Linked DNA regions of Homo sapiens: region 2 is linked to region 1. The links come from fine-mapping of genetic effects on gene expression. Tissue or cell type: whole blood. Region 1 holds a variant in brackets; the other region holds the start of a gene. All regions are shown on one strand. Distances are between the middles of the regions.

What was found. PIP is the estimated chance that this variant, and not a neighbour inherited with it, causes the effect.
Region 2: it holds the start of LPAR2, and the variant in region 1 is fine-mapped to the expression of LPAR2 in whole blood (TOPMed, PIP above 0.99).

The regions. Positions count from the first base shown.
Region 1 is chr19:19,588,092-19,590,771 of GRCh38, forward strand. All of the region lies in intron 2 of PBX4 (PBX homeobox 4), which reads right to left. It also overlaps the pseudogene PHF5AP1. Among named protein-coding and RNA genes, the nearest start is that of PBX4, 29 kb to the right of the region's middle. The variant T/C (reference allele first, on the strand shown) is at 1,063.
Region 2 is chr19:19,626,893-19,629,572 of GRCh38, forward strand. LPAR2 (lysophosphatidic acid receptor 2) reads right to left here and starts at 1,328. Exons shown (of 3, transcript NM_001395660.1): 1 at 1,200-1,328; 2 at 1-392. The coding sequence starts at 383. It overlaps GMIP (GEM interacting protein), which reads right to left. Exons shown (of 21, transcript NM_016573.4): 21 at 2,584-2,680. RefSeq lists silencers at 1,079-1,578, 1,949-2,078 and an enhancer at 1,716-2,638.

The DNA of each region.
Region 1 (2,680 bases):
CCTCTTCTTGAAGCCGTATTTTTTGCGTTCATAGAAGAGGTCTTAGAGCTCCCCAAATAGACAATCTTCAGGCAGCCATCCCTATTCTTCTCCTGGATGGTGCACTCCTTACAATAATAGGCATCAGAGACCCCAGGGCCTCCACAGATCACACAGAGCCCCGGTAAGATCCATAGTTACATTCATCACATATGCACACCAGAGTGCAGGGACGCACATAGGAGTCACAGATAACACATTTGCCATCACATTTTTCACACAGTCATCTGATGGCAACACCAGCCTGCTTGCGGCAAAAGATCAAATCAGGATGATGTTTAGCCATAGTTCCCAACTAAGCTGGCCACCACACAATTTTTGTATTTTTAGTAGAGACAGGGTTTCACCATGTTGGCCAGGCTGGTCTCGAACTCCTGACCTCGTGATCTACCCGCCTCACCCTCCGAAAGTGCTGGCATTACAGGTGTGAGCCACCGTGTGGCCCAATTTTTTCATCTGAAGAAATGCTCTAATTTCAAACAACAACAAATGAGAGCCATGGGGGAAAGGTCTAGAAGCTTCAGGAGCTGGGCTACAGTCACCATGAGGTGTGGTGCCTCTTTGGCTGAGTCTCACACAGGGAGGTAACCAGCCTAGCAACATGCACACTAACCATGACCAACCAATTCCCAGCCTGCGAATCAAAGAGTTTTAGGTCATCCAATGCCCTGACTACTCTAAAAAGAATTTCCCAAGGAACTGATCTATCAATAAGTTCACCAGGGCTGGACAGGTTGGCTCATCCCTGTAATCCCAGCACTTTTAGAGGCTGAGAAGGGAGGATTGCTTGAGGACAAGAGTTTAAGACCAGCCTGGGCAACACAGCAAGATCCCATCTCCACAAAAAAATATCCAGGCATGGTGGTGCCCACTTGTAGTCCCAGCTACTCCAGAGGCTGAGGCAGGAGGATCACTTGAGCCCGGGAATTCAAGGGAGCAGTGAGCTATGATCACACCAGTGCCTCCAACCCGCATGACAGAGCGAGATCTTGACTCAAAAAAAGAACGTAAAAAGAGGCTGGG[T/C]GCGGTGGCTCACACCTATAGTCCCAGCACGTTGAGAGGTCGAGGCCGGCGGATCACGAGGTCAGGAGATCGAGACCATCCTGGCTAACACGATGAAACCCCATCTCTACTAAAAATACAAAAAATTAGAGGAGTGTGGTGGTGGGCGCCTGTAGTCCCAACTACTCAGGAGGCGGAGGCAGGAGAATGGCATGAACCCGAACCCAGGAGGTGGAGCTTGCAGCGAGCCGAGATTGCACCACTGCACTCCAGCCTGGGCAACTGAGCGAGACTCTGTCTAAAATAAATAAATAAATAACTAAAGACAAAGAAAAAGAAAGAAAAAAAAGTTCTGGTCAGGCACGGTGGCTCATGCCTGTAAATCCCAGCACTTTGGGAGGCCGAGGCGGGTGGATTACCTGAGGTCAGGAGTTCGAAACCAGCCTGGCCAACGCGGTGAAATCCCATCTCTACTAAAAATACAAAAATTAGTTGGGCATGGTGGCGGGCACCTGTAATCCCAGCTACTTGGGAGGCTGAGGCAGGAGACCCGCTTGAACCCGGGAAGTGGAGGTTGCAGTGAGCCGAGATCGCACGATTGCACTCCAGCCTGGGTGACAGAGCGAGACTCCATCTCAAAAGAAAAAAAGAAGCTCCCTAGTATCTACGGTGTGCCAATCCCACAACAGGGCAGAGATGAACCACAGATCTGCCTTGTGCTTTCTTGATGCTGGTCTTCCAGGAAAGGAGTCAGAGGTCAGAAGACAAACCAGAAAAGTGCAAGCACACAAGACAGTTTCCGTCAGTGGTTAAGCCCTAAGAGGCAGCAAAGAAGTGCTAATTCATAAGAATGTGTATGTGCACTAAGGCCTTAAGCTACAGGCACACTGTTTTAGATACGGCCCCTACCAAAGACCCTCAATCCTTGAGGTAAGCTTTATTGAGATATAATTCACATGCCATATAATTCATCTGCTTAAAGTGAATACTTCAGTGGTTTTTAGTTTATTTCCAAGGTTGTGCGACCACCACCACTAGCTAACATTCTCATCCTCCCTAAAGATACCCCGTCTCTATGAGCAGTCACTCTTTACGCCCCCTCCCTAGCCCCGGGACAACCACGAGTCTTCCTGTCTCTATGGATTTGCCTGATCTGGACTCTTCATATTGATGGAATCACACAGCATGTGATGTGACACTTCACATCTGGCTTCTCCTACCCAGCATCATGTTTTCAAGGTGCACCCATGTTGCAGCCTGTGCCAATACTTCATTCCTCTTTATGGCTGAATAATACTCCATTGCATGGATGGACCACGTTTTGTTTTGTTTTCTTTCTTTTTTTTTTTTTTTTGAGAGAGAGTCTTGCTCTGTCACCTAGGCTGGAGTACAGTGGCGTGATCTCCGCTCACTGCAACCTCCGCCTCCCAGGTGCAAGTGATTCTCGCGCCTCAGCCTCCCGATTAGCTGGGATTACAGGCATATGCCACCACGCCCAGCTAATTTTTATATTTTTAGTAGAGACGGGGTTTCACCATGTTGGCCAGGCTGGTCTCGAACCCCTGACCTCAAATGATCCCCCCACCTTGGCCTCCCAAAGTGCTGGAATTACAGGTGTGAGCCATGGCGCCTGGACACA
Region 2 (2,680 bases), 39 kb after region 1:
CGGTGCCGCTCCACGGCGATGGCCAGCAGTGTGGCCACCGACGCAGTGAGGCTTGTGTCCAGCAAGCCCTGCCGCAGGAACCAGCCCTCAAGTGAAAGTCGGGCTGTGCGGGGACCAGTGTGGAACATGAGGAAGAGGTAGGCCACGCCCGCGAAGAGGTCAGCCGCGGCCAGATTGCCGAGCAGGTAGTAGATGGGCTGGTGGAAGCGGCGGTTGGAGGCGATGGCTGCTATGACCAGCAGATTGGTCAGCAGCACCAGCACGCTGACGGTCAGCCCCAGTGCCACCACGACCACATCCTTGGGCCGCCAGTGGGAGCTGAGCTCTTTGCCACTGTTGTTATAGAAGAAGCCGATGGTCTCGTTGTAGTAGCACTGGCCCATGATGACCATCTGGGGACACAAGAGATCAGTGCATGTGGCACTTCTTGGAAGGACACAGGGAGGGGCGGCAGCTGCAGAGGAGGGTCAGCGCAGGAAGGACAAGGGTCTCAAATTCAGATACCTCGAAGCAAAGTGGCAGTGGTGAGGACTACGGTGGCCTGGAAAAAGCAAGCTCCATGGGGCTGGGGTGGAGGTGGAGGAGCAGCTGTTTCTTACCTACTAATAAGACCTGTGTGCAAGACATCACCCAAGTCAATAGGTTTTTGAACCAGAAGTGAAACAAAACCCATCTATGGTCGAATCCCAGCCCACCTGCCGCCAATGTGTGACCCGGTTTGGGTTGTGGGGAGAGGAGGGTTAGGGAAAGACAAAGGGGTGTGAGCTGCGGGAAGAGATGAGGGAGGATCACTTTGGTGCCGGAGTCAGTGTAGGGAGCAGAGACCCGGGAGCGTGTGCACACAAGGGTGAGGTCACTTGCTAGAACCCTGCGAGGGGGCGGTGCCGAGGCGTGGAGGTGATCGGAGTGGACAGAGAGGCGGCCCCAGAAGTTAGTCGGCGGGATTTGGGCGCGAGTGCTTCCCAAGCGGGCGGGGCAATAGGCTGTTCCGGGTGGGACGGAGGACACTGGCGGTCTCCGGGACAAAGACAGCGGTTGGGGAAGGGATGGATGGCCGGGCCTCCAGGCGTCTCCAGACTGGGGAAGGGGTAGGGGGTTAAGGGATCAGAGGGCGGCGTCCTGGCCCCGCAGGCACGTGCCGCGCCCTTCCCCCGGGCCCAGGCCCGCACCCGCCCGCCTCCCGTCCGTGCAGGCCTCACCTGGGCCTCCAGTCACGCCGCAGACAAGGCGGGCTCGCGGGGGTTCGGGGCGGGCTCGAGGCCCATGGCCCGGCGACTGCGGCGGGAGCGGTAGAGCGTCCGGGTGCGCCCTGTGCGGGTTGCTGAGAGGGCGCGGGAGGCGGGGTCTCCCCGGCGCCCCGCCCCCACCACCTGGGGGAGCCCTGCCCCGCCCCGCCACCTGGGGGAGCCCCGCCTCCACGGCCGCGTCGGGGGCGGTGTCGCCCGGAACCGCAGCCCCCCTGTTTCCTCCCCGCCTCGCGGCCCCTCAGTCGCCCCTATTTCCGGCGCGGGACCCCCACCCCGGTACCTGCACACCTCATGCGCCCGCAGTTTCGAGCCTGCGGGGCTGAGTCACTCGGCGACCCGAAAATTCCCGCCGTGACCCCGCGCTGCCCGGGCGGAGCTCCAGGTGGTCTTGGGTCCGCGCCCCCGCTCCGGACCCCCAACCCTCCCAGCCCCACCCCGCTCTCTTCTTCGTGTCCAATCGGCCGCCGAGTTACAAGCCACTCCCTGATCCGACTTGGCTCCCACCGCCCGGACCCCCGCCCAGCTTCGGCTTTGCCAGCTCGCAGTATCAGCGAGCCGCGGCCTCCTGTGCGAGGCCCACCTCTGCGGCCCCAGCTGATCATCGGGCGCACGCTAGGGTTTTGCAATCCCGCCCCCGTACCCCTCACCCTGGGACAGCGCTGCCCCCTGCAAAGCCCGGCCCTGCCCTGCCCTGCCCTGTGGCTTCCTCCCTCGGCCTCCCTGCGGCGGCCCCGGGCTCCCACGGTCCGGAGCACACAGCCCCATTGTCCCGGTTATCGGTACTTTGTTATACTGTATTTGATTATGCAGGACCGGATCGGGGACGCAGAGCTCCGGGAGGGCCGGGCTGGCGTGACTCAGCCGGGTGCTGCGACCCAGCTCCAACTGCCTTTACGTAGGTGCTGCAGGGTGTTTGATGATGCAAGAAGGAGGCCTTGAGGCCGGGCGCAGTGGCTCACGCCTGTAATCCCTGCATTTTGGGAGGCCGATGCGGGACGATCACGAGATCAGGAGATCGAGACCATCCTGGCCAACATGCTGAAACCCCGTCTCTACTAAAAATACAAAAAAATTAGCCGGGCATGGTGGCAGGCGCCTGTAGTCCCAGCTACTCGGGAGGCTGAGGCAGGAGAATCGCTTGAACCCGGGAGGTGGAGGTTGCAGTGAGCGGAGATCGTGCCACTGCACTCCAACCTGGAGACAGAGCAAAACTCCGTCTCAAAAAAAAAAAAAAAAAAAAAAAAAAAAGAGGCCTTGATTCCCCTAATCTGTAAAATGGGGGCAAGGAGTGCTACCCATGCTGGCCTCTCCCCTAGCAGAGATGCACCCAAGGGCATATAGGACACAGTTTATTAGAGGCCATCAGACCTCAGGCACCACCAGCATGTGGAGTCTGAGCTGCCCACCTCCTCCAGGAAGGTCACTTCGAGTCC